4 separate regions of the Homo sapiens genome follow, and regions 1, 3 and 4 are each reported to be linked to region 2. The links are microRNA targets in miRTarBase. Many come from high-throughput screens and were not tested one by one. Region 2 holds a microRNA gene; each other region holds the end of a gene's coding sequence.

What was found. The annotated mature microRNA hsa-miR-106b-5p reads UAAAGUGCUGACAGUGCAGAU and lies in region 2 at 2,077-2,097, opposite strand. An mRNA with a match to its seed (bases 2 to 7 or 8) in the 3' UTR can be bound and repressed. Matches are read on the target gene's strand: a 7mer-m8 pairs with bases 2 to 8, a 7mer-A1 pairs with bases 2 to 7 and ends in A, and an 8mer does both.
Region 1: miRTarBase lists HECA as a target of hsa-miR-106b-5p. Seed matches in the 3' UTR shown: 7mer-m8 at 88-94.
Region 3: the mRNA of HMGCL is a reported target of hsa-miR-106b-5p. The part of its 3' UTR that is shown has no 7-base or 8-base seed match.
Region 4: the mRNA of TSPAN6 is a reported target of hsa-miR-106b-5p. Seed matches in the 3' UTR shown: 7mer-m8 at 1,902-1,908.

What each region holds. Positions count from the first base shown.
Region 1 is chr6:139,175,270-139,180,753 of GRCh38, reverse strand. It overlaps HECA (hdc homolog, cell cycle regulator), which reads right to left. Exons shown (of 4, transcript NM_016217.3): 4 at 1-3,813. The coding sequence ends at 3,649. It also overlaps a transcript of TXLNB not described here. Among named protein-coding and RNA genes, the nearest start is that of HECA, 43 kb to the right of the region's middle. RefSeq lists an enhancer at 5,243-5,312.
Region 2 is chr7:100,091,967-100,096,682 of GRCh38, forward strand. MIR106B (microRNA 106b) reads right to left here and starts at 2,108; the gene lies at 2,027-2,108. COPS6 (COP9 signalosome subunit 6) reads left to right here. Exons shown (of 10, transcript NM_006833.5): 10 at 1-221. MCM7 (minichromosome maintenance complex component 7) reads right to left here. Exons shown (of 15, transcript NM_005916.5): 11 at 3,808-4,201; 12 at 3,421-3,504; 13 at 2,207-2,375; 14 at 1,326-1,435; 15 at 762-1,167. The coding sequence ends at 966. It overlaps MIR25 (microRNA 25), which reads right to left and starts at 1,677; the gene lies at 1,594-1,677. It also overlaps MIR93. RefSeq lists an enhancer at 3,535-4,035.
Region 3 is chr1:23,798,548-23,804,031 of GRCh38, forward strand. It overlaps HMGCL (3-hydroxy-3-methylglutaryl-CoA lyase), which reads right to left. Exons shown (of 9, transcript NM_000191.3): 9 at 3,338-4,017. The coding sequence ends at 3,916. GALE (UDP-galactose-4-epimerase) reads right to left here and starts at 2,207. Exons shown (of 12, transcript NM_001008216.2): 1 at 2,165-2,207; 2 at 819-889; 3 at 340-465; 4 at 68-183. The coding sequence starts at 460. RefSeq lists silencers at 1,618-1,717, 1,768-2,247, 2,408-2,617.
Region 4 is chrX:100,626,171-100,631,654 of GRCh38, forward strand. TSPAN6 (tetraspanin 6) reads right to left here. Exons shown (of 8, transcript NM_003270.4): 7 at 4,589-4,696; 8 at 938-3,816. The coding sequence ends at 4,628. Among named protein-coding and RNA genes, the nearest start is that of TSPAN6, 7.9 kb to the right of the region's middle.

The DNA.
Region 1 (5,484 bases), not on the chromosome of region 2:
AACCCTCTAAAACCACACACAATTCCACAACCAAATGTTTCAATTTTATCAACATTCTTTAACTATTTACACTGTCTTTCCTCAACAAAAGTGCAATCCAAGACATCTTGACAAGAAATCTTTACTGACAAGAATTTATTTTTGAGCTGGTTTTAATGGAGCCCATCCATTATATTTTCTTTCAATTACCCGGAATATTCAGTGAACAGGACATAGAGATGAACTGGGTTAGGCAGCATCCTATTATAGGAAATAAAACACTAAACAAGAACACTTTCTCCTCACTTCCTTCCCAACCTCCAATGAAAGTTACTCAACAGCTGCTACCAGGACACAAAACAGAAAAGCAAACTGGAGTTCCTGACCTAGACACAGGAGAACAGACTGTGTATTAAGCATCAGTCTTGCAGGACTAAACAAAAGACTTAGCAAATTAGTTCTGGTGCTCTAATAAGGTACATATCTGTCTTATCTGTTAGTTTTAGAGTTCAAATACCTAATAAGATTCTTTTTAGATGAGTTAATTTTCCCCCAACATATATGAAAATACCTTTTACTCAGAAAATGAACTTCTTGAACAAAACCTAGAAGTTAAAGGGCATTTAAGGAAAGCTCCTCTGTAACTAGAATGGGATAATTCACCCAACTCCCCAACTTCATGGCACCATGTCTATCTTTTAAAGTATAAACCCATTATATCAACTGCTTCAAATGTAACAAGAGAATGAAGAGGTGAGATGGCCTGAAGAGAAAACAATCAATCAGAAATTGTCCTCTCACTAAAGCAGATCATTGTATCTGCTCAAGGTATAAAACTCTTAAAAATAAATAATTAAAAAATATTAAGAATAGACGAAAAATCACTTTGAAATTATTAGTCACTCTTAAGACTGCTTCATTTTACTGAACACTATTCATCAGAAAAACAAATTGGATCTCTTGGGTAACTAATATCCTTTTAGTATCCTAACTACAACAAAAATACTAACCTTTTTTGATATATTCCAATTCCAATCAAAGTATTCAGGGCAAGCTTGGGGTATTAAGGTCAGTAGATTTCCAAAATAAGATTTATCTTCATGGTGTTGAATATTCGATTATATTTTATTCCCAAATCAGCCAGATTTTCCCTCTAGACAAGAATGAATCGTCTTAAAGGCAAAAGATATTCCCAGATATGCTTCATGCTCTTATGCTTTTCTCTTTAAGTAACATCCACAGAATCCTTACTTTAGCATCGAAATAATGTCCAAGAGTAAACTTTACCCAATTACAGTAAAACCTCATCCTATTTATTGTTCAGGGGGTAGAAAGCCATCTAAAAAGGCAACATGGAACACAGCATACACTACACTGACGGCAGTTCTAAATTCAGGAGCTTGCTGAATGCAATGTATAGGTCAATTGTAAGCTTCAGAACAACAATATAAAGCAGGTTTCACTATAAAATTTTAGGTGGGTTAAAGATCAGCATCATAAATATTTTACTATTTAAATTCAGAAATAAAATCCAAATGGTATTACGAGGACAAGAGAAACTTAGCACTTTTTGCATCTGGGTACAGGAGAGAATCAATAAGGAGATAGTTAATTCACCACTACAGCTTTGTGCATTAAAGACAAGTTTGCAGAAAGCTATGTCTTACAATCCTCTTTTAGTTGCATCAAACACTGTCAGTTCAATGACTTTCTACTTCTTATAGGCATTTTATGCATTTCTTCCCACTGAAATGTTTTTTCAGATGATCAAACACCAACCTAGATGCAGCAAACCAAATCATCCAAACTGAAAGATGAATGATATTAGTGAATAACATTGGTTCTTTAATGCTGTATTGTTTCAAACAAAACATCAAATACTTCATATAGAACTGAAACTTGGCCAGGCACAGTGACTCACGCCTGTAATCCCAGCACTTTGGGAGGCCGAGGCAGGCAGATCACAAGGTCAGGAGATCTAGACCATCCTAGCTAACATGGTGAAACGCTGTCTCTACTAAAAATACAAAAAATTAGCCGGGTGTGGTGGCACGTGCCTATAGTCCCAGCTACCTGGGAGGCTGGGACAGGAGAATCGCTTGAATCCAGGAGGCAGAGGTTGCAGTGAGCTGAGATCGCACTACTGCACTCCAGCCTGGGTGACAAGAGTGAGACTCCATCTCAAAAAAAAGAAAAAAAGAACTGAAACTCACGTGCAATATTGCCTAAATACTTCTGAAAAGAAAAACCACACAGTTAAAAAAAAAAAAAAAAAAGTATAAACCAAATGAGTAACATAAAATGTTCACATCAACCCCAAATTTGGCTATTCATAAAATGATTTTCTGCATTCTTTTAGCATATATGCACATCATACATGAAATTATCAAATTAATTTTTGAGAAATCATATTCCAATTCTATAAGGGTATGCGACGTCAGTCTATTTAAAGCATTAAAATCTACTGAACCAAAGGCTGTATTTTGGAATGCCCAATGCTCTGACTAATCAAGTTCTATATATATGATCATCCTTTTTCATCAACAGTAAGGTATCATGGGCTTTTTAGAATGGTCTATTTTTCAAACATACTGCTATGCATTAAAATCATTGATTTTCCAAAACATACTTTTAAAAGAAATAGTAAAATTATTTTCTTCATCATCCTTTCACACTTTTTTCCCTTCCCTCTTAAGGTCAAATCTTTGATTTTGGAAACTCAGAATTAATTGGTTATACATGGCCATAAGCAATTTTGAGGACAATAAATGTGGCAATTATTGGTTCTGAAGCTCACCAGTTAGATTCTGTGGCTGAAAGATTTACCTGTGAGAAGAACCTGACACCAAATGACACTTCAACAGTGCAACCTGTAATAAATCATCACTGCCCAAATCAGGTTATTCATGGGTTCTCCTTAAAAGCTATATTACCAACTTCAAAGACACAATTTAAATGATTGAGTTCTGCCTTCTTGCATTATTTCCAAATTCATTTCACATATTCTGTTATAGGTCAGTTTACCTAAACATATTTGCAACACTAATATCTTTCATATGTCTTACAATTTGGATATTACTTTCAGCATGAAAAATGAACTGGCAAATTACAATAGTGATAGAAACAGCACTTGTGCCACTTTCAGGTCACCTGTCAGTGTGAGTAAACTGCCTGCCCATGTGTGCTGCAGAACACTAGGCTGAGATAGACTAATGCACTATTAGCTCTCCAGGCACAGACTTACATTCACTTGTCACATATTTTTCCAAAGGCCCAAGGAAGATCTAAAAGAAGGTTTTTAGAAAGTTAACATTTTAGTAAGAGTTTCCTTCCAACTCCTATCAAGCTCTTAGTTTATAACCACAAATTCCTTTCCTAAATTCACCCCATCCTCCCCACCATCTTAAAGCTGCATCAAAGATTCTTGGTAAGAGTGAACCCCAACCCAAATGCACAGGATTACCCATCTGGGCTCTGGTCAAAACCACAGATTAACACTCGGGAATCAAGACAGGGCAAGGGCAGCCCCTATTTTAGTGGCACACATACAACAAAGTAACTCTCCTTTAAATTAGAAAGGAAATTAATGTCACAGAATGTTTCCCTATAAAAGATATGTAATAAAGTAATAATATCAATAAAATAGCTATTACTAAAGCAAAGCTTTCATCAATAAGCTTCGAGAACTTTGAAGGAGGAAAATGGCTTCACGAAGTGGTAGTCCAGGTTCCCACAGTGTGGACACTGCTGGACGTTGCTATATTCGGAGAAGTACTGCATCCCGATCCTCACGTCGATCACCGGCTTCCCACAGTGCTTACAGTTCAGGCGGGCCTGGGGGAAACAGACACCATCAGCCACAACACCCCTCCACTTCCCAACACTTGTCAAAGTCATCCAAACCAAAATGCTGGGAAACTGATCAAGGGCTTTGCAAAGCATCCCTTTTACTACCAAAAACATGGAAACGGGGTATACCTGAAAGACTCCCAACTTCTCTCCTGATATGCAGCACTGCTAGCTGTTTCACCTACTTATGAGAAGAAAATTCTAAACTACTACTGCCTAAATGCTCTCCACTGAAGTTCCCTAACAATAAGAAACCCCTCCCCCTGGATTTTAAGACAGCGGCTGAAGCTGACTTCCCTCACCCAAACCTCCACGAAACTTCTTTGAAATTTCATTTTTCATTCTACTCTATAGAAAAGTTGCGTTTTCTTTGATGTAAAAATAAAATTTCCCAAGATACTCAAGTAAAATTAGCAATCCAGGAAGTGCGGTGCTGGTCTGAGGCTTCTGGAGTTCCCAGCACCCTGCATCTTCACTCATGCCTAGCCTCTCCGTAACAGCACAGTCCTGGAACCTTTCAGCAATGGGTCCAGGACTTAAGTGAATAACCACAAATTATAAATAAAACAGACTCAATTTAGACTCATTTTAAAAATGTACTTAAAAAGTATAATCTCAACTTGTTCTCAAAATACTCCTGGGAGGTAGGTAGTATTAGCTGACTTTTAGATAATGCAACTGAGGCACATGTGATAAAGCACCATGCCAAAGACCATGGTTAGAAAGCAGCAAGGCTGGAGTGAACCAAAGCAGCCTGCTGATCCTCAGCCACTGCAGGAACTACTTTTCTGTAACCTGAGATAAACACTCTTTTAACTACGTAATCTCTCTGAACAACATTAAAAGTGTGATTCTGAGCAAACCCGTCTTCACACTGTTATACCTTTCTAAGAATCAATTATTGCTTATTTTTGGCTACATCTTATTGAAGACTTCCCTTGATTCATTAGTAGCGTCTAACACTTGTATCCTCACTGATTTTTTTAAATTAACAATAATCGAACATATTTTCCATTTCAGTAGGGGGCCAGAAAAGAAAGGTCTGGGCTTCAATTGTTTTAAGGAAGAAATACAGTGCATGGTGAATACCAAGAGGCTGGGTGTGGCAGGATGCTGTTCTGTTTTTCCTCCTAAAGACATGGAAATAATCTCATTGCCTTTCAATGGTGTACCAGAAAGAACACCAGAACAGGAGTCACACGGTGCAGTCATGGCTGTGACACAATGTATGTAGACCTGGGTAAAACATCCCAAGTTTGTAGGCCTCCATTGTATGAGGAAATAAGGAGGTCGGTCTAGATCCCAGGTCCTTTCCAGTGCTAATCTTCTGAGTTAACAGGCTCAAAAGTTCTTTCACTTCCTTATTTCTTCAATTTAAAAGATAATCCTCCACGGTGTGTGTGTGCAGAGGGGAGCCACTTCCTCTGGTTTCTCTCAAGAGCTGGCATCAAGGCACAATAACTATCATAAAATGCCACAGTGAATAACTACTGATAATAGTAAAGATACTCTCTTTACAAAAATCAAGCCATAATGCTAAAGACATAAAACTATGCAGTAACTAATGAAGTATGTATCAGCTATTTGTACTAAAAAACCAGGCTGGAACACTTTAGAGCAAAGAAAAATTTCTCTCCTGCCCATGAGAGTATCAAG
Region 2 (4,716 bases):
TCGAGGCTCATTCTGGCCTTGCTCAGAAGCCCTTCTGATGCTCTTCAGTGAGGGAGGCACTACCATTTGAAGTGACCCCATGTCAGTCACATGGACTGGTCTTTAGCAAAGTCCAAGGCTGCCTGCTTCCACCTAAGTGGTCTCTGTTCTACACTTTAATGTCACCCTCTACATCATCTTACCTAGCCCACCCAACCTTATAAACATGATAATTGACTACTTTCCTGAGCTAAATTAACTTGTTTTTCACATACGCAAAAAAGAAGGGATAGTAAGCAGATTTTTATTAGAAAGAAGTCCAAGCCTTGATCCTGTGGGCACTGTGAATTACCAGGAGGGAGAGTTTCTCAATGACCGTTTACTACATATTTTGGAGAGGCAGCTAGGAAGTGGTCTAAAGGTTGGGATTGCTGTATGTGATCACTTGTGCTGATTTTCATCACCCGCTAACCAGAGCTTTAGAGTGGGAGTTGGGAACTAAGTAATGACCTGTCTGCTAGAAAAGGGGAAAAACCAAGAGACCCTGCATTTCATACTGGCGCCATATCCCCAGAGCCTGACTTGCACACAGGCAGTATAAGACCAAATAAGGGAGTCGGGGGGCTCAAAAAGTGGAGCCCCATCTTAAGTATCTCCAAACAGCAGGGACCGCTTAGTCCTTGCCGCATCCCCAGTGTCTATACTGGGGGCCTGGCAGGGAGATGCACTTTACTCAGGTAATTTACTGAGTGGATGAAATAGCATAAAAACGAACAGGAATCTAAAAAACGCACAAAACCCTGTTTTAATGGAAGTCAGGCCCAGGCTAGAAGATGACAATCTACAAACACTTTTATTAGCAAAAGGAGTAAGTGCAGCATGGGAGAAAGAGGGGCTCCTCCTTCCCCTCAAAGGCATCACTGCCCCTTCCCAAGGGGCAGGCCAGCAGGGAACAAGAGGACCCCAGGGTTGCAAGCAGGCTGGAATCAGACAAAAGTGATCCGTGTCCGGGAAGCATTGACCTGCCAGACATTGAGCTCCTCATATTCATCCAGAGCCGCCTGGAACTGGGCGGGTGTGAAGCCACGAGATACACAGCGCTGCTCTGCCTCAGAGAACCGGACACTTCGGCCCCCTGAGACCAGTTCACGGACGGTGGCAAATATCACATCTGCTGGTCTCTGAGTCCTGAAGGAAATGAGTGGGTGTGTAAGGTCAGGATACAAACAGGAATGCTCGACATCAACAGAGAACAATGGTGGCCAGTGTTAGAATTGAGGCCAACCTCAGACACATGGCCACAGAAGACAAAGTGACACAGCTTTGTCCTTCACTAAACCACTCACCTAGCTGTCTGCCCCTTGTCTCCTAGAAGAGAGTCCTTTGACATCTCCATTAGCCTGATGGCTTCATTCACATCTTCTTTCTCCACCACATCCACCATTCTCAGACGTGCCTAAGGGGAAGGTAGGGGGGAAAGATGGGAACGGGAGGAGGGCAGTGGAACGAGGTCAGGGGACACCCTTGTTCTGGCTTTAAGGCTGGGCAGCCCATGGGTCGCCTACTCACAAAACAGGAGTGGAATCCCCCCTCCCCCCAGCATCCGCAGTGTTGGGCCGGCACTGTCAGACCGAGACAAGTGCAATGCCCAGGGCAGCGTCCAGCAATTGCCCAAGTCTCCGCCTCTCAACACTGGCCAGTCCCGGAGTTCAGCTGTCCTGTGAGGGAGACCAGACCCTTTTGAACGCCACTGGGCTCCCCAGCATGACAGATGGAGCTTGGGGAGCTCAGCCAAGAAGACAATTGGCAGAGAGAACGTGTCCCGGGGGCTCGGGAAGTGCTAGCTCAGCAGTAGGTTGGGTAATCACACTACCTGCACGAACAGCACTTTGGAGCCCCCAGGACTGAGGTCCAAGACGGGAGGACAGAAAGGAAGGTCTGTAGCACAGGATCTAGGACACATGGAGTGAAACAGACCCCAACCACCCTCTCAGTGAAGGTTAAGAAGTGGGGAAAAGGCCTTTCCCTCCACGGACGCTGTGCGTGCCCTGCTGGAGCAGCAAGTACCCACAGTGCGGTAGCACGGAGAGGACCACTATCTGCACTGTCAGCACTTTAGCCCCGGCAGGGCTGGAGCGGGAGGTGGGGAGGCGGCAATGAGAGCACGGTAAGGAGCTACCCCTTTAAGGGTCAAAACAGATGGCCCTCCAGCAATTTGGGCACTTACCAGAGCAGTGGAAAGGCGCAGGATAGCCAGCAGGGTCCGGGCAGAAGTATAGGTGGCATCCTTACTAGCCCAAGCCTCTCGCCTCATCTCCACGTATGCTGCTGTGATGTAGTCAGCCAGAGACTCTGGCACCATGGGCTGCTTCTCGCGGCACATGGCTATGTAACGCCTGTGGGGGAAGGTTCATGGGGAAGCAGAAGAGGGAGATGGGGAAGGGAGTGAATATGAGCCCATGTTGTTTTCTGTACCAGGGCTCCCCATTTAACATGGTCCCCTCCAAGAATTTTAAGTGGAAAACACAAATTAGTGGGTGATTATTTGCTTGGCTTGAATATCACTGATGGATTTCACCAAACGTATAGCCCCCACCAGTATCCTCCAAGTTATTTCCTATTTTTTTCGGGAAAATGGCCTTTGTAAGACAAATCCGTCTGTCATTAAGAGAGGATCCAGACCCCTCCTCTGAGCGCATGACATGGCAAAACATATATTTTATTTAAAGAGAACTGTTTACAGAATATTTAAAAGGGAGTAAAAACCGGAAAGAACACTGGAGGCTCATGGGAAAATAGCGATAGAGATTATCATCCAGAATGCCTGGGAGCAGGTGTTTTAAACTTTAAATTTTGGAGTATTTGCATATGCATGAGATAGCTTGGGGATGGGACTCCAGTCTAAACATGAAATTCACCTGTATTTCATATACAACTGATACACATAACCTGAAGGTAATTTTATTAAAAATATTTTTGTGGGCCAGGAGCAGTGGTTCATGCCTGTAATCCCAGCACTTTGGGAGGCAGAGGTGGGCATCCTGGCCAACATGGTGAAACTGCTCTCTACTAAAATACAAAAAATTAACCAGGCGTGGTGGCGTGCGCCTGTAATCCCAGCTACTCAGGAGGCTGAGGCAGGAGAATCGCTTGAATCTGGGAGGCAGAGGTTGCAGAGAGCTGAGATCACTACACTCCAGCCTGGGTGACAGAGCAAGACTTCGTCTCAAAAAAAATAAATAGTGTAGGAAACAAAATTTCCTGTGTCCCTATGATATGAAGTGTGGAATTTTCCACTTAAAAGCTGATCTGAGGCTCTGGACATGTCTGTAGCGGGAAGTGGTGGTGTGAAAAACACACACCCTAAGACTAATAAGCACTTTTTCAGGAGGCTCGCACGGCCCACGCCAACGTTTGCCCACCCGCACCCAGCTCTCCTACCTCATGAGCTTCATGTCCAGAGGTTCAAACTGGGAGGGGGGCTGCCGGCTGTGCTGGTGCACATAGGTGATGTGCTGGGCCAACCTGGACAGAGGGAAGGTTAGAAGGAACACCCTTTTTAGGGCTACGCACCCATGTCCTCTTAGGTGTCCCTCCTTTGGCTCTGCCACTTCCTCACAGTGTAGGAGGGACAAGCTTTCCCGGGAAATCCTCATCAGCATTTCAGCCCCAACCCACCATTTCCCTGAGAACCATGGACCAGCCCCTGCTGCAAAGGGGAGGCTCTGGGGTTTCCAGGAGCGTGGAATTTGTTTTCTGATTCACCTCTCCTCCTCCCTACACAGATCATTACAGGGGACCTCTCTTTGGGTGTTGAGCTTCATTCACCGTAGGTCATTGTCTCGGTCGGGCCGGTCCTGAATCAGCCAGAGGAGGTCAAACCGGGAGAGCAGTGCAGCAGGTAGCTGTATGTTCTGCTCCAGGCTGCGGCGAGGGTTGTAGCGCCCGTAGGCAGGGTTGGCGGCAGCCAGGATGGAGCAGCGGGCATTGAGTGTGGTGAGAATGCCGGCCTTGGCAATGGAGATGGTCTGCTGCTCCATGACCTCGTGGATGGCTGTGCGGTCGGCCTCAGCCATCTTGTCGAACTCATCAATGCAGCACACACCCTGGTCAGCCAGCACCAGGGCCCCACCCTCTAAGGTCAGTTCTCCACTCACGGAGTCTCTCAGCACAGCTGCCGTAAGCCCCACTCCTGAGGAGCCCCGGCCTGTTGTGTACTGGCCTGGAAGAGAAGAAATAAGGAACCATGAGAGAGAAAGAACAAGAAAGAGAACAAGCAAAAGACAACAAACGGGCCAGGGAGGCGAGGCCTGCGCTGGGATCATTCCACTCCCTCCACCAGGCCTTCTTGAGATGCCCGAGGATCTGTGGGGCACTGGCAATGTCCCCCTTCCCCTCCCACTGGTTCTCTTCAGAACACAACTGTGGCTCACTGAAACCTTGGCTCCTGGGCTCAAGCCATCCTCCGGCCTCAGCCTCCCAAGTAACTGAGACTATAGGCACTCACTACCACACCCAACCAATTTTTAAAACTTTTTAGTAGAGGCCGGGCGCAGTGGCTAACTCCTCTAATCCCAGCACTTTCGGAGGCCGATAACAAGGCGGGCAGATCACGAGGTCAGGAGTTCGAGACCAGCCTGCCCAACACAGTAAACCCTGTCTCTACTAAAAATACAAAAAGTGGCCAAGTGTGGTGGCACGCGCCTGTAGTCCCAGCTACTCGGGAGGCCGAAGCAG
Region 3 (5,484 bases), not on the chromosome of region 2:
TCCTCACCTCGGCCTTCCAAAGTGCTGGAATTACAGGCGTGAGCCACCGTGCCCAGCCTGCACCCACCTTTTTGAAGAGACGCTGTAGGGCTCCCTGGTCCAAAATGTCCATCTCCTCAAACTCCACAGAGCGGCCTGTCAGCTCCTGGACCCGCCGCAGGCTCTCAGGCAGGGAGCCCCCTCCTGGTAGGGTACATGTAGGCCACATCATCACGACATGGGGTGCTGTGTTCCCAGGGACTAGCCAGACACACATTCCCCGCCCGGTGGTGGAGGTGGAACCCAGGGTTTTGCTTCTGCCATCCCCTCAAGTAGCCCCAGCCCCACTGCCCCGCTCACCACGGAAGGCATTATGGAAGTTATCGATGACCACAGGCAAGTAGCCAGCCTCCAGCAGCTCCAGCACCGTGTGGCTGCCAATGTAGCCAGCCCCACCTGTTACCAGCACCTTCTCTGCCATGGCACCTGGCCCAGGATACAGAGTCTCAGAGGTGGCTGAGGCTGCCTGCTCAGAGCTTCCTTCCCACTGGAATCCTGCCCCCTAAGCTCGCTTTGGAAGGAGGCGGCAGTGTGCCCTAGGTACCAGACTGGCTCAGAAGTCAGCCCTGGGGCAAGTCTGGGTACCATCACTTTCTGGCCTTAGGCTTTGGAAATTAATTAGCCTCTTGGCCTCAGTTTCTATCTCTGTAAAACAGAGCTAATAATTGTATAAACTTCATGAGGCAGCGTGAGGGTTCAGTGAGGTGATCTTAAGGGCCCGCCACAGCAGAGCTGGGGAGACCTGACACACAGGCACCTTATTTTCTAGTTCCACTTGCCTTGGAGTTGGAAAAGATGGAATCTGAGGATCCACACTTCTTTGTCCAAGGTGACTGAGGACTGGAGAGTCCTGGGCAGAAGGAAAATGGCAGCACGATTGGGACTCCAGGGTCGCAGGAAGGGGTTCTGTCTGCTCAGACCCAGGCTTGTCCAATGCCTCCGCCTTCGCTAGGTGTAAACTGGCTCCTGGGCGCAGTGACTAATACCTCCTGCTCTAGGCGGCCCCCACCCCCTTTCCCTCAAGGGTCAGCTGGGAGGAAGCAGGAAATAGATCACATGGCCTCAAGGGTGAGGTCCTTTGCCAGGCAGGCTGAGGCCAGCTCAGGGGCAACCACACCGTGGTTGGTCCTGGAGGGGGCCCCACCCCAACCCCCGCTCAGCCTCTGCCCATGCCAGGGCCAGCCCGGTCACTCCTGGCTCAGAGTTAGGAATCCCGCCCAACTTAGGCTACTCTGGGTGGGCCGTGTAGACGTGGACTTGGCCAGGTGCGCACCTCCACCCTGAACAAACTCTGCGGGTAGTACGGGGAGGAAGCCCCAGACACTGAGGCCTTTCATTCCCAGCGACCGGGCCCGCTGCCGCCTTCCTCCACGCTGCCTCTATCCCCTTCTGGGCTCACGCAGCTCCAACCCACTTGACCAAGAGCCCTCTGCGTGCCAGGCTCCGTACCAGGCACTTTTGCATGATTTTCCTGAATTCCCCCAGCATCTCGGTGAGACAGGTGTTATCACTGGCACTTTACAGATACAGATACTAGGGCCAGAGAGGTGAAACAGTTGCCCTTCGGTCCCACAGCTGGCGACAGCGGGCTGGAATCTGGATCGCCAGGCTCGCAGCCCGGCCCTCTCCCCAGGCGGCTCGCCCTTCCCCCACCGCTGCCCGCTGGACTCTGCCCGCCGCGCCGAAGCCGCCCCCGCCCCCGCCCCGCGCCTGGCGCGGACCCCGAAAGTGGTCGCAGAGAGGCCCTGGGAAGCACGAAAGCTGGTCTGAGGCCGGCTGCGCCCCCGACAGCGGAGTGACCTTGCTCAGCCGTCGCCCACTCGGTTTTCCCAGTCTGTCTGTTGGAGGGAAGGGGAGCTAGGCCGTGGGCATACGAGGGCGGCTGGGTCTCAGGCTGGGCTTTGGGCTGTAGCGCGGAGCGGGGCCGAGCTAGGAGTCCTCAGGCCGGCAATGAATGAACCCCGGCCGCCCCAGCCCGGGCAGCGGGGAACTGGGACAAAGGGGGCGGGCCTGCCCTGGAGGGACGCTGCCAGGAACACGACCCGCCCCTCGGAAACTCCCTCGCTCCCCGCGGACTCCCCGGCCCCTCGCGAGCCCACCCGGCCCTTCATTCCGTCTCCCGAACCTGCTCGGGTTCCCGCGCCCCACGCTTGCTGCAGAGGCACCGCCTCCTACGCCCGAGCCGCGGGCCCTTTAAGTGCTGACGGCCCACTCCGGCCCCGACCCCGCCCCTCCACGCCCCCAAGGAAACATGTCACTCGGGTTACGGCCACTACGGGGAGGGCGGGAGGACAAAAGGCCTCCGCGCTGTGACGAAGACTGCGCAGCGCGCGCCCGCGGAAGGCGGAAGTGGGCGGTGCCACCCCGCGAGAGGCGCCGCCGGCGCCAGGTCCCAGTAGCGGGTGGGTCCTTGCCGGTGCCCCGGGTCCCCGCGCTAGCTCGTCCCAACCCCTGGAAGAGGGCTGCGCTTCCGAGGGGGCAGGGGGCAGAGGGTAGGGGGCCCACGCCTCCGCCCCACTCTGACCCGCAGGTTTTCAGACTTGCCGGTGTGTGCCAAACCATGAATTCAAAATCTTGAACTACCCGATCCCACGGGACTAAGGCAGGAGGGGGTCGCAGGGGGCCTGGTGCTGGAAGTCCAGTTTGCAAATAAACCAAGGAGCTGGAGGAAGCTGTCAGGCCACACTAGCGGTTCCAGCGCTCTTGGCTCTCAGCCCCCACCTGCCGGGAAGGGTCGGTCTGCACTCTGCCTTCCACGACGGCAGGTTAGAAAATGATTGTTTGTTTACAATGAAAAGTAGTAGAGCTAGAGAATAATATGCACAAAATGTGACATCCTGCGTGATGAAACCAGAGCAAAGGAGCCCTAAATGCAGGAGCGCACAGGTGTCCGCGCAGCCGGGAATCAGCCAGCGCCTGCCCGCAGAGTCCAGGGAACCGACAGGTGAGCGCTCCCGGGCCCGGGAGCGCCAGGGAGAGGCCGGGCCACCGAGGCCCAAAGCAGCAAGTGTGTCCTCAGGGGAGCTTGTGCAATAGCCCCAGTCACAGAGGCAAAGCTCAGAAACAACCCCGTCGGGTGTTCTGGCCAGCAACTGCCGCAAGCAGCCTCCTGAGTAAGCCCAAAACCACTGATTTCCAGTCACTATGGATTTGGGGCTCAGGTGGGGAAACAGGGAGGAAATCCAAAGATTAATAAACTAGTTCATAGTCTCCATTTTCCTCTCAGAGTGCAACATGGTAAAGTATTTTACTCCCCCACGCGCATGTATACACACAGCTGCACAACCGAATGCTGGAATTATGATGTGCCATTCAACCTTTAATTACATAAGCTGTTTTCAAAAATCACATTCAGCGTGGAGATTTTCCAGAGATGCTGGAGTTGGCAGACGGCCACCACGTAGCTCTCCACTTTCCACAAATGGCCTCTGCCAGCTTGGGAAGAACCTCCATGACCTGTGTCCTGAGAAGTCAGAGAGCAAGGGCCCCACGGCCATGGCAGGGTGGAGCCGTGTAGAGGGTGGCCAGGTGGCCAGCTCGCGGATTCCATCCAGAGAGGAGACTCAAGGATCATGCTAAGTAGGGAACGGGGTTCCCACACGTCCTCAGGCATTCAACTCCTGGGCCAGGGTCCGTAACAAAGGGAGACTTCAGCCCTCAAAGCCTCTCACTCCTCAGGTCTGGGCAGGAGGTCCTTCTGCCAAGCAGCTCCTCCTGCCCTTCGCCTGCTTTCTGCCAGGAGAGACCTCTGTGTAGAGCTGGCTATGAGGTACCTGCACCATTTAACCTATTCTCATTTCCATGTCCCCATCCATGAATCATCTGTGTGTGCCCCTATTTCCACATCATCCCCAGGGCTTCAGGTGGGCAAGGGGCTCAGAGTTTACAGGTAGCCTGAGCCACTTTGGAGCTAGTTTTTCTGTTCAGGGCTTGACAGATAAAGTTTCCAGCTTCCAGAAGCTTCTGGAGATTCACACCCTTTGAGAAACAAGTTAGAGGATGCGGTAAGTCATGGTATGCCCTCAACACCAGGGAAAACATCAGCATGGACAGACAACTGTGATACTGAAAAGTAAAGGTGAAGATAAACAGGCTTTTTCCTTGACAGCGGGGCACCAGCTGCCTGTGAGCTCCTGTCTGTCTGGCACCTGGGTTATTCCTCTGACTCCCCCTCATGTAAGATGCCCAATCTCTGTCATGGTTTGTAGTGCCACTACCAGGGCACAGATCTTATCAGTCTTGTTCAGTACTCCCTCTTCAGGGCCCAGCACAGGGCCTGGCCCACAGAGGTAAAAAACTGATATTCAAGTGACAATTGTGAGGCAGAGAGGGAGGGATAAAAACACCAACTGAAAGGGCCAGACAGAAACCCTCTGTTCATACAGTAGCTCATATTTGCTGAAGTGCACTCTGTGCTCAGCTCTGTGATAAGCATTCTACATAACTTTTCTTTCTTTTTTTTTTTGGAGACAGAGTTTGCTCTTGTCGCCCAGGCTGGAGTGCAATGGCACGCTCTCAGCTCACTGCAACCTCTGCCTCCCGGGTTCAAGTGATTCTCCTGCCTCAGCCTCCCGAGTAGCTGGGGTTACAGGTGTGTGCCACCACACCCAGCTAATTTTTCTTTTCTTTTTTTTGAGAGGGAGTCTCACTGTGTCGCCAGGCTGGAGTACAGTGGCGTGATCTTGGCTCACTGCAACCTCTGACTCCTGGGTTCAAGCAATTCTCCTGCCTCAGTCTCCCGAGTAGCTGGGATTACAGGTGCGTGCCACCACACCCAGCTAATTTTTGTATTTTTAGTAGAGATGGGGTTTCACCATGTCGGCCAAGCTGGTCTCGAACTCCTGACCTCAGGTGATCTGCCCACCCTGGCCTCCCAAAGTGCTGGGATTACGGGCGTGAGCCACCGTGCCCAGCAATTTTTCTATTGTTAGTGGAGACAGTGTTTCACCATATTGGCCAGGCTGGTCTCAAACTCTTGACCTCAGGTGATCCACCCGCCTTGGCTTCCCAAAGTGCTGGGATTACAGGCGTGCGCCTGGCCCTCTACGTACGTTTTCTTACTTAATCCTCACAATGGCTCCATGAGATGGATGGCATTATTATTCCCATTTCTTAGGTTCAGAGAGATGAAATAATTTGTCTGAGGTCTCATAGCCTGGGAGTGGCAGGAGTAGGCTTTAAACCCAGTTCCATCTGATCTTTAAGCACAGATGCTATTCTGCTTCCGTCCCGCCACTGAGGGCCCTGGTGGACTCTGGCGGATCCCTGGTGAGCTGTCTAACGCTACTGTCCTCATTTTACAGAGAACAAAACAAAGCCAAGAGAGAACTGACTCATTTCAGGTCATGAACCTGACCCTTCCCAGGGCCCCTTCCATGTTCCTGGTGTCTCCTAGGACTGAACTGTCAAAGTCACCCTGACACTCCAGCCTTCTTATGCCCATGC
Region 4 (5,484 bases), not on the chromosome of region 2:
AAAGGACCATTATAATTAGACTCACTCATTCATTCATTTATTCCATTAGCATTTACTGTGTTCTTACAAGTGCCTGATGCTACTAAGCTCCATGGGGTCAGGGTACCTAATAGAAAAACCATAATTAAATCATAATGGCTTCTCTCTCACAAGCAATCCGGGTGAAGTTTTAAAGCGATGACTTAAAAATGAAAGTCTTATTTCCCTATAGCTGTTTCAGTTTATATATTCATTTCTGACACATTAGCCTTTTGTTTTCCTTTTTAAATTAGTAAGGTTTGGTTTGCCGCATCACAAAGTTTCAACCTAGAAAAGTAGCAAACTTAAAAAAAAATCAAATCTCAAATTATCTTATATATGCTGTGAGGAAAAGTAGAAATGGCATTAATATCTTAGGTTAATTTTTTTCCCTGCAAACACAAACAAAAACCCTCACAGAATAGTCCAAAGGAACCAAAGTTTACTGTTTCATGAGAAAATGCATATATTGCTTTGTGTCTCTTTTTTATTTTATTTTATTTTATTTTTTTGAGACGGAGTCTTGCTCTGTCACCCAGGCGGGAGTGCAGTGGCGCGATCTCGGCTCACTGCAAACTCCGCCTCCCGGGTTCACGCCATTCTCCTGCCTCAGCCTCCTGAGTAGCTGGGACTACAGGCGCCCGCCACCATACCTGGCTAATTTTTTTGTATTTTTAGTAGAGACGGGGTTTCACCGTATTAGCCAGGATGGTCTCGATCTCCTGACCTCGTGATCCACCTGCCTCAGCCTCCCAAAGTGCTGGGATTACAGGTGTGAGCCACCGCGCCCGGCTCTGTGTCTCATATTTTAACAGGTTTGTTTGGGTGCATCACCAACTTGGATTCTGACAGGAGGTTGAAAACATCAAGTCTCAAAGATTCTTTTGTGAGCTCTGAGGAAAACCAGAAATGGTATTTATACCTTGTATTAGGTATTTATTTCCACAAAAGTTTGATGCTTACAACATAAACCCAACAACCCACCTGGAATAGGCCATGGAAATCTAACAAGCTTTTCACACTTAAGATATACCTAGAGATTTCTGCTTCTCAAAATGTCACCTTGCAGTGAGCAACCTGGTGCCTGGAAATAAGGCAACCCACATCAATTTTGGGACATCAAAAATGAATTATTTTAAACATAGATATATAGTGAAGTAAAATGTAAAATTCTCCAGATTTCTATAAAACAAAACTTAAAAGCTCAAAACCCCCAGCCTGTGCCACTAAGGGAAACTCACTCCCTCTGCCATTAGGATTGTCACCATGGAAATGAGCAGACCTACTGCCTCCAGTGGAAACTGGATCTCTCTCTCCAATCTAGTGATCCCTCTTTCTAACCAGCTAGTCTAATTAGCAAACTATTAAAGACACGTGAACTTTCCTTTGTACCAGTTATCATTAGGTGAAATGTTTCCTCATTACTTTCAGAATTAAGTATACAATTCAGTATGCACAAGCACACATCAGCTATAAGGGCGTTTTCTAACTGGCTATCCAAAATAAACCCATCTTAAAAATAAACAAACCAATCCACCTGACGAGTGATGTGTGGTGTTTTTCCTCTTTCTACATTCTATATTTTAATTTTCTATAATTTTTCCTTTTTAATAATGAGGGAAAACTTTTTTTTTTTTTCTGAGATGCAGGTTCACTCTTATCGCCCAGGCTGGAGTGCAGTGGTGTGATCTCGGCTCACTGCAACCTCTGACTCCTGGATTCAAGTGATTCTCCTGCCTCAGTCTCCCAAGTAGCTGGGATTACAGGTGCTTGCCACCACACCCAGCTAATTTTTGCATTTTTATTAGAGACGGTGTTTTACCATGTTGGCCAGGCTGGTCTAGAACTCCTGACCTCAGGTGATCCGCCCGCCTCAGCCTCTCAAAGTGCTGGGATTACAGATGTGAGCCACCATGGCTGGCTGAGGGAAAACTTTTTTAAAAACTCTAAATATAACCTTAAAACATTCTTCAAAACCACTGCAGTGAAAAATATGTATTTGAAAATTGCTGATAATCCTTTAAATATTTGCTTCTTTAATCTCAGTAGCCAAAAATCTGATTTGCTGTACTTGAGTCACTATTTTTCAACTTAATTTTCTTATCACCTTATCCTATGTCAAAAGTCACACATCAAATGTTCTAATGGAGAATATCATTTTTCTGCAATAACTCCAAGCATTTTAAAACACATACTCAAAATTCATGATCATTTAACTAGTAGTTTTTGCCCAGGTTTTTTTCTAACTGTAACTGACTCCCCCTTACCATCAATTCAAGGACTGTGGCAATCAGACTAGACAGGTTCTACTAATGGATGTATAAAGAGACTCAAAACCAAAGAAATAATTCCCTGACTTCAACTCAAATTTTAGTAATTATTATTTTCCTTATTAATTTCCCTATTATCCTGAAGATACAGGTTACATCCCTCCCTGTACAACTTTTTAATGCAAACTATACAATCAAAAAAGTCTGATCTCTAGGAGAACACTAGTCATATGCTACTTTATAACATGGAATATAATTTTTTTCACAGAGAACAGTTTTTTTTAATATTTGCACTTTAAGATTTTTTTGTTTACATTAAGTTCTGGGATACATGTGCAGAATGTGCAGGTTTGTTACATAGGTATACATGTGCCATGGTGGTTTGCTGCACCTATGGGAACAGTTTTTTTTAAACAAAAACATTTTTTTTAATACAGAGTTAAGGCCGCAGGCTTATATTTCACATCTAAAAACAGTACTCTGAATAGAAATGTAGGGCTTAGCTTTCTCAGTGGAAAACAACAACCATTCCAGCAGATTTTCTACAAGTTAATTTAAACACGATCTTTTTAGAGGAAAGCAGTATTTATTGTATAAGAGTTATACTTATTAATCAAAGGCACAAACGAAAACTAAGACTTAAAGTTGACCATAATATTGACAAGTCATATCAACCTGGTACCAGCTAAATTTAATGAAGATAAGTTCCACTGAATTCCTAAGGAAAATACAACAATTCCGACACCATTTAATAATTAGAAACTTTCAAACAAGAGGGAAAGTATGAACATCATAATAAATGCCTCAATTTGGAGGCAAAGAAATGTAAGTTGTGTGCTGAAACCTGATGTATCACAGAACATCAGTAGTCCCTTCCAGTCGTGGATGCCTTAGACCCAAGGCCTTACACTGTTATCACCATCTGGCAACCCTGATGAGGGATGCCATCTATTGACTGACTGAAATTAAATTACACAATGTGACTCTCTGCCTGTCAGCAGAACAGAGAGTCATAAAACATTTTAACTTCTTGGTGCAAATTATACAATCAAACCAGATAACCTTGACTGGGAAGGAGCCAGTTCAGAGGGGTGAATTTTCTATCACACTACATCAATAGCAAAGTCAGAGGAATCAATTTTCCATCTTGTAACACTACATCAAAATAGCAAATTCACAGTGCCTTCCAAAGGCCCCCTACTAAGAAAAATAACAGTCAAGAGGAACACAGTATTACTTCATTTACAATTTACTAGCTCTTCCAGTGTTTCAGAGGGATACAGGGTTTCAACGATCTAACATGAATGGGATAGAAGGTGGACTTAGAACATAGCAAACATACATCTTGATTGAATCAGCCCACTGCGAGCACGGATCTTGATTGAATCAGCCTATTGGTGTAGTTTTAGGTCTACATACATCTTGATTGAATCAACCTACTGGTGTAGTTTTTTGGTCTATCAGTAAGTAGTGTTGTCAGTTCTCCAGCCAAGCAACTTTCTAATTCACAGGGGGGACCCTAAATGTCCTAAAATTAAAGAAAAAAAGTTAATGTACTTGTTACCCAAATTTCAACATCTGTATTTGCTTACATACATTCTAATCTATTCCTGCTAATGAAGACCTTCCTATGTGTTCCTAGTCAGTGGCTCAAGTAAAATGCAAAGTGTGCCCTAGGGATCAATTCAGCCAACAACAGTTCTCACAGTATTTTACCAGTCAAATACTAACGCCATTGAAACACATGTCTTCCCAAAATCTGGTTCCTTATTAGACCAGATGAGTTTACGGTTTTAACAAAAGCCCACCAAAAACATCTTTTTACCAAGAAAGCCACACTCTCAACAACTGATTAAGATTGTGGTAAATGAAAACTACGAAAAGGACTAAGGAAAATGTCAATATTGGTGAGGAGCAGAGTGCACCTGCCAGGGAACCTCACGAATAAGGTCATTCTTGGGATTCTTTGTTTCTCCTCTCTCCAGGCCAAAACATGTTAAAAAAGGGACCACTTATGATCTTTAGGCTGACATGTGTATGTAAATATATAAACCCACACGGGGAGTCTTCTGTTGCATAACTGTAGAGAGCATGCATAGATAAGCTGTAGCTAAGTCATTACTTTCTGACCATGCCCTGTGTATAGAGACCTAACCTGCCTACACAGGGTTTACATAGCACCAGCTAGATTTAAATATATTACTAGACAAGACGTTCTTGGCAAACTTAGTCCATGCATCACATACACAGGCTAGAATAAATATCAACACTAACAGAGCTGAGGACCAAAATGAACGCACCTTAAAGGTAGAGAGGAATAGGCCCACAGATACATTGGGTTACACTATCTCATACTGGTTATTTGTTATGGCACGAGAGAGGCAGTAGGCGAGAAAGATTCCAATCAGCTAGAAATAAAATAGGAACAAAATTAAATACATACACAAAAGAACTTGAACACCTCAGACTATATTCTCCTCTCACTTGTAATTCGCTTATAATTTTCGTCCTTGAGTTTTTCTAGAGTTATGTTTAATACTCTGCAGCATCTAGATCACATTCAAAGAATCTAAGTGAAGTTTTATTGCCACTGTGACCCAGAATTTCACAACTCTCACCAAAGGAAAATCCAGCAAACTCACTCAAGGAAAATTCAGTCACGAGTTTTGAAGAAACTTTTCTTACTCTCATTTCCCAGAAAAAACAAATACATGGTTTTCAATAAGTATCTTAACAAGTGAAATCTCCATCAACGAGGGCAGAGATTTCCCTGGAAAGATCCACAGCAATGCTACAATAATGAAAATGTTCTAGAATCCCTGTACTGTCCGATATAGTAGGCAGCAGCCACATGGCTACTAAGTATTTCAAATCTCCAGCAAACTGAGGTTTTAATTTTATTTAATAATTTATAACAATTCAAAGGTGGCTAGTGGCTACTGCATTAGCATAGATTTAGATATAGCTTTGCTTACTACTTTAAAAATATATTAAGACGAAACTTGAATTAGTCTTATTTCTAGTGTTTAATATAAAAAAAAACGTTCAGAGCCACAAAACAAACTTCATGCTACAGTGGGAAACACAACTTGGGAAACACAATTTGATCTACAACGTGGAATCAACCCCAAACAACTGGTGCATAAGGAATGTGGGGGTGGCATCATCTAAATTTTAATAGGTTGGAACTTGTATA